Homo sapiens: one gene and its partners. The protein of the gene in region 1 interacts with the protein of each later gene in a biochemical or structural test. Each region holds a gene or a part of one and is shown on either strand. Other genes may lie near its edges.

The links.
Region 2: the proteins of HINFP (region 1) and MKI67 form a complex in vitro, tested with the Homo sapiens proteins (one study listed by BioGRID).
Region 3: the proteins of HINFP (region 1) and PRRC2C form a complex in vitro, tested with the Homo sapiens proteins (one study listed by BioGRID).

The regions. Positions count from the first base shown.
Region 1 is NC_000011.10:119,130,938-119,137,258, reverse strand, and holds the end of HINFP (histone H4 transcription factor), read right to left. Parts: coding exon 6,305-6,321; intron 5,725-6,304; coding exon 5,613-5,724; intron 5,430-5,612; coding exon 5,277-5,429; intron 5,017-5,276; exon of another isoform or gene 4,962-5,016; intron 4,764-4,961; coding exon 4,686-4,763; intron 4,599-4,685; coding exon 4,478-4,598; intron 4,396-4,477; coding exon 4,257-4,395; intron 4,165-4,256; coding exon 4,040-4,164; intron 3,316-4,039; coding exon of another isoform or gene 3,176-3,315; coding exon 2,761-3,175; 3' UTR 1,200-2,760; downstream 1-1,199. UniProt on the Homo sapiens protein: Transcriptional repressor that binds to the consensus sequence 5'-CGGACGTT-3' and to the RB1 promoter. Transcriptional activator that promotes histone H4 gene transcription at the G1/S phase transition in conjunction with NPAT.
Region 2 is NC_000010.11:128,123,303-128,131,743, forward strand, and holds the start of MKI67 (proliferation marker protein Ki-67), read right to left. Parts: upstream 3,122-8,441; 5' UTR 2,797-3,121; intron 2,455-2,796; 5' UTR 2,366-2,454; coding exon 2,274-2,365; intron 1-2,273. UniProt on the Homo sapiens protein: Protein that associates with the surface of mitotic chromosomes and acts both as a chromosome repellent during early mitosis and chromosome attractant during late mitosis.
Region 3 is NC_000001.11:171,529,749-171,537,650, reverse strand, and holds part of PRRC2C (protein PRRC2C), read right to left. Parts: intron 5,309-7,902; coding exon 4,690-5,308; intron 2,224-4,689; coding exon 2,054-2,223; intron 1,623-2,053; coding exon 1,373-1,622; intron 389-1,372; coding exon 178-388; intron 1-177. UniProt on the Homo sapiens protein: Required for efficient formation of stress granules.

The sequences.
Region 1 (6,321 bases):
ACTGGTCTGGAACTCCTGACCTCAAGTGATCCGCCCACCTCGGCCTCCCAAAGTGCTAGGATTACAGGCGTGAGCCACCATACCCGGCCATAGTTGACACTTTTTTATATCCACCCAGTTCTTCTAAGTCCTCTGTGGTTGTGGACTTGCCACAAATAAGAGAAAAGAAGTTATCTGCTTCCAACTCCTGGGCCACCTGCCTTCTCTCCTATCCCTACCCCCTTTAAGGAAGACTAAGACAGGGTGTCTCCTTAATCTTCAGACACCATGATGCTGGGACCAGGGTTGACTCTAGGTGAAATTCTAAGGTAACCAAATTAGTATCATCACCCTCCTCCCTCCAGGAGCCCACTGTCACCCACCACAGCCTTTAGTATCCTTCCAGAGGCCTCTGGCTGCCTAGACTACTCAACAGTGACCCCTCACTCCTGGTCCAGTACTTTCTAAGCCATGCATACTGAGTCCAGGATCCCAAGTCACCCCTCCTCCTAGGGAATGGAATCACATGGTAACAGACCAGAATCTCTTCTGCTGTCTCCATGGTCCAGATAGAGCAATGCGATTTGGTGTGGGCATGACTGAGAAGACTAGTAGGGAAGGTCCTTTTCATAGAATGCTGGCCTGCTCCCGAAGACACTGCTCATGGAAGAATGGATAGAGTCATTAGTGCTGCATTACTCAAGGGACACCCCACGCCAGTGCTTAGACACCAGCAAAACTGGGGAACTGAAAAATAAAAGAAAAAATTAGAAACAGAATTTGATAGTTAATCTATATACAATATATGTTTTAAGTATAATCATGTTGAACTTTAAATGTTTCATGGCTTAATATTTTCATTCTGATTACATATGAAAAATGGGACACCACAATCTTTTCAGAGTTTAGAACCTTTAAAGTCTTCATCTAGTCTTGGTTAGGTGGAAGGTCTCTTCCTGGATGAAACCTTTCCTGATCCCTTGCCCAGGTAGTACCATTACTCCTATTTGGAGCCTTCTAAATGTACCCTGATTAACTTCTATCACTCAGCTTACCTAGTCTTTCCTTGCTTCTGCATTGCAAGTCCCTCCAGGGAAGGTCCTGGGTTTTATTCATCTTTGTATCCTTAGCACCTGTGCCTGGACTATAGTAGGAACTCAATAAATGGCTGATGGGATTAATGAAGAGATCTTTTTCTTTCCACAAATAGACACACACAGTTTTTCTTTTCTTTCTTTATTTATTTATTTATTTGAGACGGAGTCTCACTGTGTCGCCAGGCTGGAGTGCAGTGGCATGATCTCGGCTCACTGCAACCTCAGCCTCCCGGGTTCAAGCAATTCTCCTGCCTCAGCCTCCCGAGTAGCTGGGACTACAGATGTGTGCCACCATGCCCAGCTGATTTTTATATTTTTAGTAGAGACGGGGTTTCACCATGTTGGCCAGGATGGTCTCCATCTCTTGACCTTGTGATCCGCCCGCCTCAGCCTCCCAAAGTGTTGGGATTACAGGCGTGAACCACTGCATTCAGCCTTAGTTTTTCTAGTAATAGAATTAGGTCTTACAAAAAAAGGCCCAGAGATCCTTTTTGGGCAGCTTCCTGTCCCCAAGACTATTTCCTTGACCTCTCCAGCATAGCAGTAGACCATAAAAATGGACACAGGGTGCTGAGAAGCAGCTGAACCAGACGAAATGATGATTCTTATTTTGGGAGGTTTCAATCTCTTTGATAATCTAGCAAAAAACAGATCCTTTCCCCAGGAAAATGCACATTCAGACACACAATTTTCTAGTTTGGTTCCTGGACCACTTGATTGCCTCCCTTCCCTGGGAGGCTTCCCAATCCTCTCCACCCCCCAGCTTCCTTCCCACTCCCAGGTAAAGAACCCCTACCCTAGAGGCACTGGGTTCTAATCAGTATTCAGAGTGAGGCCATGGTCAGCTGCCCTATCCTCCCAGTGAGCCCATTCTTGTTCATTCTATAGCACCACTACTGCCCACTCACAGCCAAACACCTGGGACCTCCATGGAAATGGCATACGCTCTGAGAATAGCGAAGTTTCACCAAGGGGAGGAGGAGAAGACAACAGGACAGTTAAGCAAACAAAAAACAAACCACCTGAGTCACCAGAAGGGGAACAAGCCTAACTATTCAGCTCCTCTTCTGGGTGGCTGTATCTCCTCATTACCTAGTAAACTGCCACCAAATGTAAGAAGAAATAAATAAGAGTCCAAGCATTTATTTTATTACCAAAAACAATTTGTTAATAAACACGCTCAATGCCTCCAATCCTGTCCCTGAGGATAATCATGAAAGTCCTTGGGGTTGTAGAGGAAACCTTAAGAGGAAAATGGCTACTTGGTTATCAATGCCTTGGCTGGTGACAAAGAAAGGACCCTTGCAGGGACCAGTCACATGCCATCCTTGGGCCTAAGGAGCCCGAAAGATGGGAATGGATGTGAGCTAAGGATTTAATCACTGTCAAGCAGATCTTGAGGGTTATGGTTAAGCCTGATAACAGCCTCTTTAACAAGAACACACACATCCAGGATCCCCTCAAAGAATCCAGAGTCCTCAGGCTCCCCACAAAATGTAGTCTGGCAGAAAAGGGAAGTCTTTAGAGTCTGCAGAATGATGCAAACCCAGGCCAGAGTGGACCACACTGCTCTCGGCACCACTCCTAAAGGCATCCATTGGCAACGGCTGCCCACTAGGGGCACTGCCACTTGCCTGGCTCAAACTTCAGGACCTGGGGAAGAAATGGTCTGGCTCTGCGGCCTTCAAACCATCTGGATCTCTGGCTCCTCAGCTATTCCTTGAAGCTTTTCCATGATGCCCCCTGAAGGTGGCTCAGGGGCTGGGGGAGGCTCCCCTGGGGCTTCAGACAGCACATAGTAGACGATCTCTTGCTGGCCTTGGGCATTGGTCTGATTCACCACGTGGATGACAGAACTGGGGTTGTCCTGAGAGGCTGAGAGGGCTGTCCCTTCGCTACCCTTGCCCTCCTCTTCCTCTTCCTTACGTCCTGGCTCCCCTGGCACTGTTTCTAGAATAATGCCCTGCAGGCTGCTCTCGTTCAGCGACGTTCCCAGGCCCGATCCCTCTTGTGGTTGCCGCAGCAGTTGCTGTGTCAGCTCTACACTCTCGTAGCGAACCAGCTGCAGCCGCATATAGCCATCTTCATGTTCCTTGTACCTGGTGAGGTAGGAGCATAAAGGGCAGCAAACCCAGGCAGGGGGATACAGAAATGGCCGAGGCTGGCAAAGTAAGGAACAAACATGAGGGATGGAAGAAGTCCTGGAATCCAAGTGACAGGAGTTGAAGACAAAAAAGGTCTTTATTGGAATATGTAGAAGAAAAGGCAAGAGGGAAAGATCATTACTCAAAATGGAAAGTTTTATATAGAAACCCAACCAGAAAAACAGAGACTGACTGACTGTGTTGGAGGGTGAAAGTGTCAAAGGATTTATGAGAAGGCCTTGGAGCTAAGGATCAGAACCCTTAGACTCTAGCTCTAGTTCCAGCTGCAGGACTTTTTGGCACCATTTATTGGGTTTGGCACCATGCCTTACAAGATTCAAAAAACAGAAAAATAAGCTTTGCTCCACCATTATTCTTAGGATTCTTTGAATCTAAATGGAAATGGCAGACATAAAACCACCATCAAATTAAGGTTTTATTTATTTATTTATTTATTTTTGAGATGGAGTCTCGCTCTGTCACCCAGGTTGGAGTGCAGTGGCATGATCTCAGCTCACTACAACCTCCGCCTTCTGGGTTCAAGTGATTCTCCCACCTCAGCCTCCCAAGTAGCTGGGACTACAGGCATGTGCCACCATGCTCAGCTACTTTTTGTATTTTTAGTAGAGACGGGGTTTCACCATGTTGGCCAGGCTGGTCTCGAACTCCTGACCTCATGATCCGCCCACCTTGGCCTCCCAAAGTGCTGGGATTACAGGCGTGAGCCACCGCGCCCGACCCAAATTAAGGTTTTTAAAACTGGTTGAAAAGGTATAAAAACAAGTGTGTTAATCTGGGAAGGAGGGTTGAGAGACATACCGAAAACGGGGATGCCCTGAGGGCCACTTGAACTGGTGCTTCTTGCGAAGGTGCACGGTGAGGTTGTTGCCCCGTGTGAAGCATTTGTCACACACATGACATTTGTACCTTGGCTCAGAGTCTCCCTGATGGGGAAGGAAGGGAGAAATGAGACCAGCTCTTCACCCCAGGGTCCCCCATACTTCCACTAGTCCTTCCCAACACCAGCCCCACTCACTTCATGTACTTTGCGGTAATGGGACTTGATAGAGCAGAGGGATCGGGCACTGAAGGTGCAGTTCTCAAAATCACACCTGTAGGCTGGCTCCTCGCTGTGGGTATCCAGGTGCTTCTGGAGGTCAATAAGATTCTTGCAGCTGCCATGAGAAATCAGGAGGGATTGGAGGACATGGGGAACACTGGAACATGAGCTGTTTTCTGGTCCCTGGTCCCCCTTACCTGTAGTCACAACAGTCACATTTAAAGGGCCGGTCCTCACTGTGACGAAAGCGCATGTGGTTGCGGAGGGAGGAAGGCAGCGGGCAGGTCATGTCACACAGAGGGCACTTATAGTGATTCACTGAGAGAAGCAGAGAGGAGGCTGTGATGTGAGAACTTGTGGAACCTTGGAGGGCAGGAGGGAGGCTGTGGGCCGCAGGCCACTCACCATGGTTGCGCATGTGGTCCCGCAATAGCCGCTCTGTGGCAAATCTCTTGGAACAGTGAGAACACTGGAAGTGCTGCTCTGGGGTGGGGCAGGCAGAAGAAAGGAGGGCTGTAGGTGATAGTGGAGAGGCACAGAAAGGAGAGGGGAACCATCCCAGGCAGAAGGGAACCACCCAAGGAGAAAAGGAGAGCTTAGGGAGCTATGAATGGACACAGTATCATGGAAAGAGCATGGGACTTAGAGAACCTGAGTTAGAATTCCAGCTTCACCACTTACTAGCTGTGTGATCTCAGGTAAGTGATTTAACCTCTCTGAGCCTCAGTTTCCTCATCTGCAAAAAGGGGGATAAGAAGCCTACCTCATGGGGCTGTTGTGAGGATTCCCTAAGTAACTGATACGAGGTACAGTAAGTACTGAATAACAATGCCTACGAATCTGAATCAGCAAAGAGACTATGGGAGGTGCCTGAGCCCAAAAAGAAGAGGCAGCCAAAAGGCAGGTCTCTTCAGTGGCCACCCCCACTAGAAACATGCCCCTAACCCATTCCAAGCAGGACAGCCTGCATCCACCCCACTTCCTCTGACTACTTACGATCCAATGAGGTCTGGCGACGGATGTGATCTAAGAACTTGGTATTGTTGGCAAACATGCCCCCACAGGTGGGGCAGGCTACCACTTTCTCCTGGGTATGGCTGCGGAGGTGCTCTCGAAGTTTACTGCGGTCCTTGAAGGTGCAGGTACAGCCTGGGAAGGAAGCCCTATCAGTCTCCTGCCACAAAACCCCAGTTTTGCCTAGGATCTGGTACCCCTGAGTCTCTCCAGCCGGCAGTCAACCTTGCCCCTGTAGGACCCCTATCCCTTTCTGTCCCAGCTCTTCAGGAACCCCAGCGTTTCCTCCAGAAGCCACAAGTTAAGAAGCAGCCCTACCTTTCCAGCCACACAGCACCACCGGGTTGTCCTTGCCGACTGCTTCGTATTCACAGCACAGACTGTGTGCTTCCACATGCCGATAAAACCACTCAGGATTGTCGAAGGAATTCTGTGCCAGGGGCAACTTGGGGTGAGGACTGAGGGTGGGTAGAGGGACTCACCCCTATGTGCCCGAAGAATTCTTGGCTCTCTCCCAAATTAACTTGATGGGGATGGGAAATTTTGAGGAAAGGCACTGCACAGAAATGGAGGAGTGGCCGGGTGCGGTTGCTAAACCCTGTAATCCCAGCACTTTGAGAGGCTGAGGCAGGAGAATCACTTGAGGCCAAGAGTTCGAGACCGGCCTGGGCAACACACCCAGACCTTGTCTCTACAAAAAATTTAGAAGTTAGCAGGGCATGGTGGTACATGCCTGTAGTCCTAGCTACTTGGGAGGCTGAGGTGGGAGGATTGCTTGAGCCCAGGAGTTCAAGGTTACAGTGAGCTATGATTGTACCACTGCACTCTAGCCTGGGCTTCAGATCAAGAGCCTGTGTGTAAAAAATAAACAAATTTTAAAAGAGCAAAAGAAATGGAAGAGAGATACTAGCAGGAATCTTGGAAATATAAGGCATCCCTGAAAGGGACAAGGCATCAGAGTTAAGACCCCCAGCTTCCTTCCACCCCAATTACTGGCACTGCCTGCTGACCTCACAGTGCTCCCACA
Region 2 (8,441 bases), on another chromosome or scaffold:
GGGCAATGTAAACGATCTTGCATTTTGCAAAGAACTTTTGGAAGTATTAAACATGTAACTATTAGATCTTTAAAACAGAGAGTATGTAAAAACAAGGGAAAACACTAGAACACAAATCGAATTACCTTTTATATGAAAAGCTATACTTAAAAGACACAAAGGAATACTTACATCAATTTTGGATAATGACTATTTTTAATACTCTGTGCTTTTTCAAAAACGTTTGTTTGTAATGTTAAATATGTTTAGAGGTTTAATCATCCCCAAATGTGCTTATTTGATGCTAGCACTTCTGTGCATCAGTTTCTTCATATACAATAAAGAAATTACATTAGAACCTACATCATGTGATGTTCAATTAAATGGTTGTACATGTCACTAATTTGCCTAGCACATAGTAAATGCTCATTATGGGTAAGCTTTTCATTGTTGTTTTAAAACTACACTGAATTTACTGACAGATTCAAGTCTCTAAACAATAAAAATACTAATTTGCAAGCGACACAAAAAAAAAATCTAAATTCAACTTGTTTTTCCACAGAAAGCTAACACCATGGCAAAGTAGCAGAAGAGACAATTCCTAAACCTATACAAACTAATAATCAGAAGAGTTTGTTAGTAGGTTCTTGGAGTCTTCAGTGTTCCTGTTCTAGCCTGTGATCTTAAAAATTTGAATAAACTATGCAATGGCCTGTCTGTTCTCCATCTGAACCTTTGGAGTCTAAGAATCTCTCTTCCTACCCAGGTCATGTGACCAAACACTTAGGAATTATTTCTAAATTATAAAATCTTGCATGAAGATATATTCAAGGAGTACTGTATAAAAAAGCAAAAGGACTGCCACTGGAGATGAAATGTTTATATTTTTCCTTTTCAAGAGAAAGGTATCTATGGAAAGTGAAAAGCTTCCTTAACCCCAATAAAATAATTTGATTTTAAGGTAACAGGACATCAGAGCAAAGGAAAGACTATCCCTTACAACTGAGAATTTGTTTGGCAGGAGGACGACTATAGATGGGTGTTTCTGAGCTTTGGCACTGTTGACATCTTGGGCCAGATGCTTCTGTATTGTGGGGGCTGCCCTGAGCCTGGTAGGATGCCCACCCTGACCTCTCCTCCGCGATGACAGCGCATGCCCCTGTCCTATATTGTGACATGGAAATTCAAATGAATCCTGGAAGGTTAGATGACCCTCCTGTGAGAACCACTGTTCTCAAGAGATTGCAAATCCATGGCTCCAGCCCATGTTTCTACTGACCCTTGCCAGAATGCTAGGTATTGATCACACCCCCTATGCCAGACACCATCCCTGGCCCTACACACGTGATTAGTAACAAGACAGTCTTTGCCTTTGGGGAGCTCAGCCTAGTGGGAGACAAACCCACAACTCACCCCTGAAGCTGTGGGGTTGGAAATACAAGTTTTCATGCAAGGCTTCCTCAGAGGTGACATTTCACCTGATGCCTGAATGATGGAAATCACACAAGCTTGAGGAAGGGGAGAACTTTCCCATTGTAAACTTCCAAGTGTGTAAGAAGTACCAAGGTGAACAAAGGCTTGGAATGCCTTAGGCGGGAGGAACAAGGTAGGGGATGGGGTTGGGAGGACAGGGTGAGGCCGGGATGGGGTTGGGAGGACAGGGTGAGGCCTGAATCCCGTGTGGTCTGGGAAATGACCACACGGGAAATGACCCCCCTTCTCAGGCCTCTAGTGGGACACATGTCAGAGGCTGATGGGGCACTGTCAGCAACTATACCTGTTATACAGGGACAGGGTTATTACCACCACCAAACAGGACAGCAATATAAGAGGAAACGTTCTCGAATTCCAGGCAGGAAGACTTTCTGTCCCATTTTCCTATTGCCACAAGGAGCCAAGAGACAAGTGTATGGCTTCCTTCCTTCATTCTCTGTGTCCCCAGTGGCCAGGGATGCCCACTGTGGAGGCACCCGGGGGCGCACAGTGTCTTCAGACGCCTGCCTGCAGCCAGTGACATATGAAGATCATCTACATCTTTCTTTACCGCAACATTAGCAAATCGATTTTTTTAATTGGCTTGATTTTTAAAACCACTTAAACATACAAACTAGCATCAAATTTATACTTACAAAACAAAAAAACACAACTATGTCAACTTAGTAACGAATGGGAGAAGCACCAAGGAAAAGTGACGGCAGGACCCAATCCTAGAGCGCGTTTCTGGACTTTATTCTGTGACTAAGGTATTTTCCTCTTTCTCAGCTAAAACGTCCGCGCGCGCCCGCGGGGCTCACCTTCCAAACAAGCAGGTGCTGAGGCTCAGGGGAAAGTGGGGACCGTCGACCCCGCTCCTTTTGATAGTAACCAGGCGTCTCGTGGGCCACATTTTCTAAACAGTAAGTTGAGTATAATCCGTAGGGGAAGGCCAGGTATAATCCGTAGGGGAAGGCCAGAAGCAAATTTACAACTCTTCCACTGCAAAAGAGGTGCGAGTTACTCTGATAGCAAAGGAGCTAAGAAGGGCCCCGTGCCCAATTCACCTATCCCCGGCCACAGAAGCGCACACCGCAGCTAGCTAGCGGGGACCCCAGGACGATCCGACCGCAGCCCCCGGCGCCCCAAAGTCCGGCAGCTGGGGTGTTGTCGCCAGCGCCTGCGCCTCCTGGGAGCTTCCACCGAGACGCCCTCGCCAGAGCCCAGGAGGAGTCGGGCCCAGGCCGCGCGTCTGTCCCCTGCCCGTCCCCGCAGAGCTCGGGGGGTCCCCGCGGCTCAGCCCTCGACCCCGGACAGCTCCCAGGAGTCCCGGCCGCAGCTCACCTGGGACGATCCGGCCCGCAAGGCCACTTGTCGAACCACCGCTCGTCAAGTCGCACCCAAAGTCCGCCGCAGGAGGAGCCGGCGCCGCGCTCACCTCCGCCCGGTAAGCTGCGCCCGCCACGCTCCGCACACACCGGGCCGCAGCCCGCGGGGTCGCGTTCGCTGCACCCCGGCCTGCAGTCCCCGCTGCTCCCGCCGCCGCCTCTGACGGGGACCCGGTGGCCCTACAGGCTACGTCCCCGGGCGCCCGGCTCTAGCGGCTCCCACCGAGTCGAGTCCTCCCGCCCGCCCGCCCGCCCGCAGCGTCAGCCCTCCACTTCCTTCTTCCAGCCCGGCGCGCCCGCCCAATTCAAACGAAAACGAAGATTCAAATTCTGGCGCTAAGCGCTGCGATTGAACGGGAAAGCGCGGCATGGGACCAATAGGAAGGGAGCGCAGGGCGTGGGCGGGGAGGGGGCGGGGAAACCGGGCTCGCGGGGCGGGGCTGGCGTGTCCGCGGGCGAGCCACTCACGCATCCGGAGGAAAATACCTGGGTGCATCCCCGGCGAGGGCGGCTGGCGGAGGGCAGAGGTGGAACACGCTCCCACCGAGATAACCCGTCCTGCTATCCTTTTCTTAAAGGACCAAACATCTGGGACACTATAACATTACTCATTGCCAGAAGATTTAAAACTGCTAAAAATTAAAAACAGGCGGGACGCGGTGGCTCACGCCGGTAATCCCCGCACTTTGGGAAGCTGAAGCAGGAAGATCCCTTGAGCCCGGGAGTTCAGAACCAGCCTGGGCCACCTGGAGAGAACCCATCTCTACAAAAAATTCGCCAGGCGTGGTGGCGCCCCTGTAGTTCTAGCTACTGGGACAGCTGAGGTGGGAGGATCGCTTGAGCCGGGGCGGTCGAGGCTGCAGTGAGCTGAGATCGCGCCACTGCACTCCAGCCTGGGCGACAGAGCAAAGCCCTGTCTCAAAAAAAAAAAAAAAAAAAAAAAAAAAATCGAAACCTTCCTCTTCAGTGCATACATCTTACCAAACACAAAAACAACCAATTATATAAAGTAGTTTGGTGTGTCTTTTCCTGCTATACGTGTATTCTCTTTTTCAAAAGCACAGAAAAAAAGGTCATAACATACACAACACGATTCTATACTTTGTGCTCTCTGCTTTTAAATATCCTGAGGCTATCTCCACTGAACACATTCTCGCTTTTACTCTCTGATGGCTGCAGAGCACTGGGCTTCGGGAAACCATAATTTACTTAATCATTACTATTGCCACATACTTAGGTTTACAATGTTTTGTTATTAGAAAACATTCTTCAATTGAAATGGCTTGTGCATGCCAAGATGGGTGAATCCTAAAATAATTCTACACAGGATTCTATCGGGGTCTGCTTCAGTTGCGCTGGTGGCCATGTGGGCTCAGTAGGCCACCTGGGGTGAAGTGAATGGAGCCTAAACACGCTTTTGGTGACAACGGCCTCTCTGCCCCATCTCACCTCCTCCAGCTCCCCAGCAACCCTTGGAGCTTGGCTCCCTTGATCAGGGAGGCCTCGATGCAGGGGACCCCTGAGGACTTCCTATTCCTTTCAGAGAGTCCATAAGGTCAAAACCATTTATCTAATGACCCTCTGTGTTACTTGCCCTTCTCATTCTCATGCTCCCAAGAGTGTGGGGTGTGGTTCTGCAAATGCAGAAGCAGTGAGGAGACTCCCACTGTCTCCGTTTCAACCAGGTATTACAGAGATTTGCAAAAATGTGAACTAAAGCGCTGTTTTCATTTTGTTGTTTTTTTTCCATAAAAATAAGTTATTGGTGTTAGCATGAAATAGGTGCATCACTATCTTAAAATGAATCAATAAATGAATATTTTTAAATTCCTTAGCCTTAACTTAAAATATATAAATATAGCTAGATATAACCCATCCACATTAACAAAAATTCCTGGTGGTTCTCAATAATTCTTAAGAGTGTAAAGGGACCACAAGATTGAAAAGACTGAGCCCTCTGCTCTAGAGCAACTACAAAGATATCAGCTGCTGATGGAAATAGAGAAACTGGGAAAGCAACATAAAAGCACAGGACAGCAACTCTAAATTGTATGGGCCAAGTCTGACGTAGAAAAATTCAGTGCGGGGATACTATTATATAAACGTTTTAGGGGGCATGAGTTTCCATGTTTTCCCCCATTAAACGATCAAACAAAGCCCACCACTGCATAACCCCATAAAACACAACTTTTCTCATCCTAATTACTGCTTGTTTCCAGAGACAGTTCTTCCACCCTCATGGATGCAGCCTAATTAGAACTAGAAGGTGCTAGGCCAGGCGCAGGGGCTCATGCTTGTAATCCCAGCACTTTGGGAGGCCAAGGTGGGTGGATCATGAGGTCAGGAATTCAAGACCAGACTGACCAATATGGTGAAACCCCATCTCTACTAAAAATACAAAAATTAGTCGGGTGTAGTGGCACACGCCTGTAGTCCCAGCTACTCGGAAGGCTGAGGCAGGAGAATCACTTGAACCCGGGAGGCAGTGGTTGCAGTAAGCCAAGGTCACGCCACTGCGCTTCAGCCTGGGCAACAGAGCGAGACTCCATCAAAAAAAAAAAATAGAAAAGAGAGAGAGACAGAAAGAAAGAACGAAGGAAAGAAAGAAAGAAAAAGAAAGAAAGAAAGAGAGAGAGAAGAAAAAGAGAGGAGAAAAAGAAAGAAAGAGAGAAGAAAAAGGAAGAAAGAAAGAAAAACATTTTGAGTTACTTCTTTGAAACATTTTGAGTTACTTCTTTTCTGTTGTTGCTGTTGTTGTTTTTCTTTTTTGAGATGAAGTCTCACTCTGTCCCCCGGGCTGGAGTGCAGTGGTGCAATCTCTGCTTACTGCAACCTCCGCCTCCCAGGTTCAAGCGATTCTCCTGCCTCAGCCTCCCAAGTAGCTGGGATTACAGGTGTCTGCTGCTAAGCCCAGCTATTTTTTTTTTTTGTATTTTTAGTGGAGATGGGGTTTCACTTTTTTTTTTTTGAGACTGAGTCTCACTCTGTCACCCAGGCTGGAGTGCAGTGGCACAGTCTTGGCTCACTGCAACCTCTGGCTCCTGAGTTCAAGCAATTCTCCTGCCTCGGCCCCCTGAGTAGCTAGGACTACAGGTGTGAGCCACCACGCACAGTTTATATATATATATATATTATGTGTGTGTGTATATATATGTATGTGTGTGTGTGTGTGTGTGTATATATATAGTATACTGTCGCTATATATATGTATATATGTATATATATGTGTGTATATATATAGTATACTGTCTCTATATATAGTATATAGTATGTGTGTATATATATAGTATACTGTATATATAGTAATTATATATAGTATATATACTATATATAACAATTATATATAGAGTATATATACTATATATAATTAGTATATATATTACTATATATATATATATATATATAGTAATTTTAGTAGAATCAGGTTTTCACATGTTGGCCAGCTGGTCTCGAACGCCTGACCTCAAGCAATCCGTCCGCCTCGGCCTCCCAAAGTGCTGGGTTTACAGGCGTGAACCACCGTGCCCAGACTTCTTCCTGGCTTTTAATCTGGTCTCTTGTGGGGAGGTTGCCCACACTTTTCTTCCCAACTTTCTTCTCTGTTACGTAAGTCAGGGACAATGTATAGTTCCTTCCAGACTTCCGTATTCTACTTTCATTGATCTTGGACCTACAAGTCGGTTTTGTAGCTCCATTTTTGGAGTTTTATTTTTTTCATGATCTTCTTTCCATTTTCATCTCCTTTAAATAGTTTCTACTAATATAGGAAAACTACGGATGTATTGTTCTTTATTGGTTATGTTTCTTGTTCTTGGACACAAAGGCATTCCCTAGGGAAATCAGAAGACATCTACAAAATTCCAATAATGATTGAAACAAATCTCAAAATTCAACTAAAAGTAAACTCAAAAAGAAATGCATTTAAAAATATTAGGCTGATTAATTTTTTAAGATGTCAGTAATCTAAGATATCCAATATGATGCTTTGCCAATCTATGAACAAGAAAAGTCTGATTATAACAGCTTACATTATAGCAAAATGCCCCATTACACAGGCATCAAATGAATTTCTTATCACTTAGTCATCTCTGCTAAAACAAAACAAAACTCTTCATGACTGGACTTTCGTCATACTTCTCTCCACACACTAGTAACCTCTCTAACAACTCCAACAATTATGTTGACTGCAGAATACACATTCCCTGTATGTACTGCTCTGATTGTTTTCCTATTTGTACCCAATGCTCCTGATGATAGTGTCTAGAGCAACATAAGACTAAGCTGCCCATCTTTTCACTGAATAATTTTTCACACATTTGAAGATGAACACAACTCATTCACTTCCTGAAATATTCTCGTTAAAATTTTTATTAGCAGTTTTTGCTGTTATTGTTGTTGTTTGTTGTTGTTGAGATGGAGTCTCGCTCTGTTGCCTAGGCTGGAGTGCAATGGGCATGATCTCGGCTCACTGCAACCTCCACCTCCTGGGTTCAAGCAATTCTCCTGCCTCACCCTCCCGAGTCACTGGGACTATAGGCATATGCCACCACGCCCAGCTAATTTTTGTATTTTGGGTAGAGATGGGGTTTCATCCTATTGATCAGGCTGGTCTCAAAATCCTGACCTTAGGTGATCGGCCTGCCTCAGCCTCCCAAAGTGCTGGGATTACAGACATGAGCCACCGCACCCGGCCTTATTAGCAATTTTGACTAGTTCTTCCTTTTTTTTTTTTTTTTTTTTTGAGACGGAGTCTCGCTCTGTCGCCCAGGCTGGAGTGCAGTGGCGGGATCTCGGCTCACTGCAAGCTCCGCCTCCCGGGTTCCCGCCATTCTCCTGCCTCAGCCTCCCAAGTAGCTGGGACTACAGGCGCCCGCCACTACGCCCGGCTAATTTTTTGTATTTTTAGTAGAGACGGGGTTTCACCGTTTTAGCCGGGATGGTCTCGATCTCCTGACCTCGTGATCCGCCCGCCTCGGCCTCCCAAAGTGCTGGGATTACAGGCGTGAGCCACCGCGCCCGGCCTAGTTCTTCCTTTTCCCACACTTAGTCTGTTCCTCTATCATGCCTGAAGGATTCTTCACTATTACCTGCAGTTATTGCCTGTGTTGAATGCAGACATCTTTGAGAGAAGGTCTAAGAATAAATTCAGGTGGCATATACATTTTACAATCATGGAGATCATGTAATCATTATGGGATGGCTGCCGCCACCTTATTTGCTGTGGCCCAGTGTCCTTTAGTTTTCATGTTCCTTCTGTTTTTTAAAGGTTCAATATTTATTGCAGTGAATTGCATATTTCTTCTTCCTCTTAACACATGGGCTTTTTTCAGTGTTCAGGTGCAACATGTTGCTTTCATTTCAGTGTTAAATTGCTCTCTGGTGTCCATGAAGTATTGCAGTGTCTTTATTTTATTGGTCTTCAGGACTCTTCCAAATATTTTTAAAGGTTTTCCTCTCTCAAAACCACTTGTCTTATCCTCAGCATCATCTTGTATTTGTGTGACCTTCTTGAAGCCAGCCAGATGTTCTCAAGGTTGAGCCCTTTCCTCAGGGGCTGGTGGGTGACTCTGGCTGCCAGTTACATTTTATCCTGAGTCGGGA
Region 3 (7,902 bases), on another chromosome or scaffold:
AATGCCCTAATGAATACAGAGAATATGTCCAAAGAGTAAGCGTAGCATGCTAAATTAAATAGAAGGAAACCAGATTTATGCTTCAGTCCTAAATTGGAATGATCTTCAGAAACACTACACAGTTTTCCTTTTACCAAAATATTCTGTATCATCTATTAAATTGAAATAATTTATTACCTTACATCCTCAGGCTCTTCTGTTGCTTTGGGAGTAGTTGCTTGTTGAGGCTCAGCATGAGGATAGGGATCTGACCCCCACAGCATACGAGGCTCAGAAAGGGAAATTGCGTGATCTCTTGCAGATCGAGCTATATGCTCAAATGACTCAGAACTGTTCGGTGACCCTTCCATCTGGTCTCTTCTCATTAATGGTTTAGGAGGAATCATTCCTGTAACAAAAGTTCAGAAAAAGGTGAAATGAGGATTTTGAAAAATGAACGAAACAAAACCATGATAGACATAGAATACAGGTTATTAATTGTTAGGTGGAATTCTCCATATTAAAAGCATTTTTTTCCTGAGTAAAAGATTGGTGGAAATTATGTAAGGGTTGTTCTGTGAATGGAATTTTATTACTGCTGTTAAATAAAAATTGCATTTAAGAACTGAGGAAGCAAAATAAGCAAAATCACAATAGCAGCCTGTTTTACTTCAAAAGAAAGAAAATATTATGCATATAAAAATCAGACACCAAGTACTGTGACTCTGGATGTCAATACAAACATCATGAAAATTATACTATGATAACTTTCAGAGAAAATTCTTTCCTAAATTCCATTAACCTACCTTAGTTGGTCAATATTCTACAAAATATGCCACTTAAATTTCCAAATACCAGTATAAATGTAAAAATCAAAACATGATTTGTGATCAGCTTATCATCCCTAAATTTTCCTCTGTAACATTTTGGTAATAGATTATCTTGATTTATTCTGATGGATTCCATAAAAGACTGCTAATTCACTTTTTTTCCCCCTAACCTAAAAGGAAATTCAAGTGTTAGGTTGGTAAATGATGGAAGAAGAACTTGAAAAGGAATATATATAACATATGGACAAAATTCAAACGCTGAAAACACTTTAAAGAAGAACAACAATGTAGCCAATAACAAATACTGTTAATAACACATAATTATTTCCATCTGAAGTTTTAAATAATACTTACAAAACAGAAATGAACTAGTATTTTGTTCTTGCCACATAAGTAATATGAGTGTCAGATATTTAATTACTCGATGCTGAAAGTTACATCATTTTGATTAAAAATCGGAGGTTTAAGTTTTTCCTAGATTACAACTCTCAAAGGAACTGAAACTAAAAGCAGGGAAAAAAAAATTTTGATCCTGTAAAACTATAAATGCAAATTCAACTGACCAGGATGAATGGGTGGAATATCCATAGCAGGTCTTCCTGACATCATTCGAGGATCCATGTAGGACTGCATCATGAGCCACCTTGGATCAAAACCCATAGAAGCCAAATGCTGAGGATGAGGCTGCATAGGCTGATAAAGAGGTCTGTGTGGTGGAGGAGGGACAGTACTACTGGACGGTTGTGAAGGAACAGTCTGTGGAAGTACACCTTGCTGTTGCTGCTGCTGCCACTGCTGCTGTTTCATCTGTTCCTGAAAAAGTAAGATCCCATATCTTGAGAGTTTAGTTCCACATGACAAATTAACATAATCAATCATATCACAAAATAATGGCCTGTTTTGAATCCTTGAAGGAAAAGTAAGAGTTCAAAAGGTATTTAACAGTTAAGAGTTGGCAAGACAAAAAACTGAAAGATGAACTATAACATTTTACCTTATACTCAAGCACTGTATGATCTATCTCCTAGAAATGGAAGATGGTGTCTATAAATGAGGCAGAAGATCAAAAGGAATGACACAGAAGGTCAAGGTAAAACCCACGTTAACTTTTATTTACAAGGAAAAATAATTTCAAGGGAACTTTGTGTGCTTTACGTATTATCAGTTTTATGTCTAATTTCCCAGACTACTGCATAATAAACCACTTCAATCACACATACATGATAAAATATTTTTATCATTACCTGCTGCCGCTGGAATCGTGGAGGTAAAGACTTCTGAAACTGTTTGAAATAGCCAGATAATACAGCCGGCCGAGGTTGAGACCCTGATTCTGGTTCTGTTTCATGCACCACTGGTGTGGCTTCCTTTTCACTGCGATTGCTGTCTTGTCTAGTGAAAACGGGTTCCTCCTCTGCTCAAAGAAAAGGTGAAAGGTAATAGTATTCATCTATGACACTTATCAAACACAGGATTTTTACAAAGACTGAGGTATAATAAAAGTTAATGAGGAAGAAAATATCCTCGACACTCTAAAACATTATTTTCTACTTTAACATTGGTAGTTATCAATGAGGTAACATTAGATTATCAAAACCTTAGATTTCCTAAAAGCTGCATTCTTAGAGATGGAGAGCAGAGATCCAAATGCTTCATCATATAAAATCTATGTTTTTTTTTTTTAAATAATGAAACATTTCCAACTCCACATATTTTTTATTTGTTTCAATAAACATCAATGTAATTGTCAGTATTTACTGGTAGTTCATTAAAATCTACATGAAAACACAAATGGCCTATAAATACTTAAAAAGAGAGCATGTTGGTTTATTTAGTTATTTATTGGGTAAAGGGACTATTATCTGTAAGGAAAACTAATGAGTTTAAGTCTGAAGACAACAGAGTGATCACTAGTTATCTTCAAACATAATTCATTCTAGAATGTCATTTGTCACAATTACAAATCCACGCTTGTTACAAATTCTTTTCTCAAATGACTAGTAATGAATTTAAAATGGAAGTTTATCTCCCAATGTAAAAGCATGCTGTTAAGAATCACAAATAACATTTTTATTGCTTGGATTACATTCAATATTAAGAATGTTGTAAAAGAGTGAGCAGGTCATGGTGGTGCATGACTGTAATAACAGTAACTCAGGAGGCTGAGGTGAGAGGATCACTTTAGCCTGGGAGTTTGAGACCAGCCTGGGCAACACAGCCAAAAAAAAAAGAATGGAAAATAATATACTGGAGGAAAAAGAGCCACATAGGCACTGACTTTAAAATCACGTGTGTCTTGAGAACATCTCAGAGAGCATTAAAACAAACAAAAAAATTGTATGTGTCTAGTATCAGAATTGAGGGGGGAAAAAAAAATCACATGGGTACATCTCACTGATAAACAAGCTAAAATTAAATTGCCATGAGAGAGAATATATAAAATGTGAATGAAAATAAAAGCACAAATAAAACTTATTAAACTATGATAATGTTTTCCTTTCTCTTGTGAACACTTTATTTCACTATTTTGGTGTTATGAGCAATCTTCATAAGTACTTATGTAATATAAGCCCACTATTCAATAGCAAAGTCTCTCTAGATTGATTAATATGAAAAAAATCTGAAATCTTAGAGTCTTAACAAATGGTCCATACAGGCCTTATTTCATTAAAAAAATTAAAGATAAAATACTCATACTCCTTTATAGTTAAATTAAGAGCCAAGTTTGAAGGTAACCCTGCATATAAATAAAAACTTTATTTTTAAAAACACATTCTTATTATTTTAAGCAGCAGTGCCTTGTAGAAAAGAGCATGAGACGTCAGGTTAGAAAACTTACAATATTTCCACATCAGAAAATACACTGAAATAAAACTGCATTTCTATTTTAATTCAAGTCGTTCATTAAAACTAAACTTTAGGCTGGGCGCGGTGGCTCACGTCTACAATCCCAGTACTTTGGGAGGCCGAGGCAGGCAGATCACGAGGTCAAGAGATTGAGGCTATGCTAGCCAACATAGTGAAACCCCGTCTCTACTAAAAATACAAAAATTAGCTGGGTGCGGTGGCACGCGCCTGTAGCCCCAGCTACTTGGGAGGCTGGGGCAGGAGAATCACTTGAACCTGGGAGGTGGAGTTTGCAGTGAGCTGAGATTCCGCCACTGCACTCCAGCCTGGAGACAGAGAGAGACTCTGTCTCAAAAACAACAACAACCACCACCACCACAACAACAACAAACAAAAAACGAAAACCCTGAACTTTAACTTTGCCAAGGCTTTATACTATATTTGAATGCCATTAATCAGTCTACAAGCCAACTCGGAGAAGAACAAAAAAGTTGATTAGATCTAGAAAAAGAATTTTATTTTAAAGTATAATTACTCCAGGAAATTACAGTTTAATAGCATATCAACTACACCATGGAAGCTTGCATGTTTAAACTGATTAAACAGCAAACCTGAAATTATGAACTAGGTGCAGTCATTTAATTATGATAATCCAACATACTCATTAAGCTCTATGCCAGTTCAGTTTTAGAGGTATTAATGCATGTGAACAAATGAGATTTTGTTTAGTTAAATGTCTTGGAGTCAGAAAAAAGCAGGGGGAGAATCAGTATATGTGACTATGAAGCCAATACAATTCTGCAGATAAAACAGAAATGAAGCTCATCTAATAACTGAGAAACACTTCAGAGACGTCTGTTCATATACAGAATTAGAAAACACGGCTCTAGCCCATATTTTGTACTGCAAATGCTATCATAAAACAATCACTTTTATATTGATTACATATATTTAAAATATACAAACCCCAAACTGTAACCAACATAAAGCTCTTTGTAAAGTTTTTAAAAGAGAATGAAGAATACTATCAAACCTTTATTACAGCTGTTTTCACTTTCTTGTTTTTCTACCATGGGCTCTAAATTAGGTTCTCTGGGTTCAATTTTCTCCTCTAATTTTTCCCTTTCCTTCTCCAGCTCACATTCCTTTTCTTGTTCTTTCATCTTTTGTAGTTCTTTTTCCTTTTCTTTCTGCCGTTCTAGTTCTTTTTCTTTTTCTTGCTTTCTTTCTTTCTCCATTTCTCTTTGTTTTTCCTGCTCCTTCTCCAGCTCTTTCTCCTTTTCCTGCTGTCTCTCTCTGTCTTTTTCCCTCTCCTTCTCTCGCTCCTGTTCTTGTTCTTTTTCAAGTTCTTTCTCACGCTCCCGTTCTTTTTCTCGCTCCCTTTCCCTAATTTCCTCTGGAGATGGTTGTTTTTCCAGGATGCCAAGCTTCTCATCCAATCGTTTCAGTTTCTCCGCACAAGCTGCCTTCCTTTGTTCTTCCATTCTTCGCTCTTCCTCTTCACGCCGTTTACGAGCACGTTCTACTGCTGCAGAAATTTCTGATTGTTGTCTTCGTCTTTGCTTCCATATTTCATCTTCATCAGCTACTTGCTGCTTGGAGGGAAAGGGGCCTGGTCTTCCAGGTACTGCCTGTCGATCTGGAGGTGGATGCTGAAACATTAAGGTATCAGATGAGTTATGACAACTCTATTTCTGACTAACACTGGGTATCAGGCATGGAGAAGGAAAAACCCCACAAAAATATCAGAAATTTCTCTGATGAACATACACATTAAAATGAAAACACATAAGATGGGAAATATATTACATCTAGATAATTCACCAAACTAAGACCAGAATAATTAATCCAGCGGTCCAATGTTTACTGAGTATGTACCTATTATTGTGCCAGACGTTGTTGCTCATTCAGTATTTGCTGAATAAAACTAGAAGCACAACAGTGAATCTCAAAATCTAAATTTAGAGACAAAGGAAATTTAGCATGGATACTTTAGAAGCAGCTGCCAGAGTTGGAATGTCTAAGGGAGAGAAATGAAGGTATTAAATATCCAAAATGATGGCATGTGAGCCCTGAGAAAATTAAGGTACAGCTACAGGTAAAAAGCACAGAGCCAAAGAAGCAAAGTGAAAAAGACAGAGTCAGTGCTGTAATGATACCCCAAAGGAGAAGAAATTCCTACAAATTAGTCTGGGTGAAGAAAAGTTCTATCTTTAGACTGAAAGATCCAGAAAAGCGTATCTAGAACCCGGAGTGGAGAATCGGAGGATCATCTGAAACATCCAAGTTTCAATGACTAAATTTTCATTAATGTGTTATAAAACAATGACAGGTTTTAAAATCACTGCTTGCAACTATGCAAAAACAATAAAAGTAATTAAAAAAATGTTTTTAACATATTGATTTTAAAAGCTACTAGGGTGAAGAAATCTTAAGAGCCATATGTAACCCAGCTGGAATGCTTATAAAAAGATTAAACAATGACACAACGAAAACACTTGACTATCTTTTTAAATGAATGCAGACTACCATTTACTAATAGTGCCATCATATGCAAATTACTTCATCTCTCTTGTGCTGAGTTTCTTCATCCACAGCTCAGAGATAAGCTGAAAAACCAAATATATTAGTGCCTAATTTACACAACTCACTTCATAAAAGTAAAATTTACATAAAATGTGCTGTGCTGCACATATTTTAAGTGTATAGTTTGATGAGTTTGGACAAATGATACACCTGTGTAACCACTGCTCCAACGCAGACACAACATTTCCATCACTCCTCTGCCTCCCCCTGTGGCCCCAAGCACCCCAACCCTAACCTTGTATAGTTCTGTTTGTCCTAGAATTTTATATACATGTATAAAATTATATTCTCTTTTGTGCTAGCTTCTTTTGCTAAGTATAATGGCATTGAGGTTATTTTATGTATAAGTAGTTTGCTCCATTTTACTGCTGGATAGTATTCCATTGTGGGCACGTTGTTTCATGTATGATAGACACGTGGGTTGCTTCCAGTTTTTAAACTATGAATAAAACAGCTATGAACATTCATGCGTAAGTCTTTGTGTAAATGTATGTTTTCCTGGCTGTTGGATAAACAGCTACAAGTGAAAATCCTGTGTCATATGGTAAATAGATATTTCATTTACAAGAAACTGCCAAACTGTTTTCCAAAGTGGTTATAAGGTTTTCCAATGTATAAGGGTGCCAGCTGCTCTATACATCCTTGCCAACACATGGTGTCATCAGTCTTTAATTCTGGCAGTGCAGTAAAATCTCAGTGGTTTTAACTTGTATTTCCCTAATAACTAAAGACACTGAATATCTTTTCATGTGCATACTGGCCATTCTTACATTTTCTTTTGAGAAACAAATGTTCAAGTCTTTTTGTTTAACTACGTATTATTGAGTTGTAAGATATTAAAAAAAAAATAAAAATACGGCCCAGGCTAGACACGGTGGCTCACATCTGGAATTCCAGCACTTTAGGAGGCCAAGGCAGGAGGACTGCTTGAGCTCAGGAATTCAAGACTAGCCTGGGCAACATGGCGAAACCCCATCTCTACAAAAAATACAAAAAAATTAGCCGGGCATAGAGGCACATGCCTGTGGTCCCAGCTACTTGGTAGGCTGAGGCAGGAGGATCGCTTGAGCCCAGGAGGTTTAGGCTGCAATGAGCTGAGATCTTGCTCCAGCCTCGGCAACAGAGCAAGACTCTGTTGCGCAAAAAAAAAAAAAAAAAAAAAAAAGCCCAGCTACAAGTCCTTCGTCAGATGTATTAGGAATATTTTTTTCTGTAACATATCTTTGCATTCTTTGGGAAATGTTCTCCAAAGTCCAACTGACCAGCTGCTTTTCCTTTCTAATTCGTGGCCAAGGTCTTATTTATCGAAGAAAACTTTGTCAGCTCCAAGTTCATGAACACTTGATCTTCTATACTTTTTTCTAGATGTTTTAGTTTTAGTTTCTGTGTACGCAGAAATGTTATAAAGAGCTTTCAGTGGTTATGAGGAGAGGGATTGCTGGAAACGATGGTGATGGTTGTGATATGTACAGCTATCACAGTAGGGTGATTACAGAAGGTCTGGAGACCCTGATCATAACAACGATTTCAGGAAAAGAAAATCTGCTAGTTAGAAAGAAGAACAAGTAAAAAAGTCAAGAAGAGCAATGTGTATGTGGTAAGAACAGCAGATGAAATTAGAAAAGTAGACAGAGATCTGAAAGATCATGAGAAGGACTTG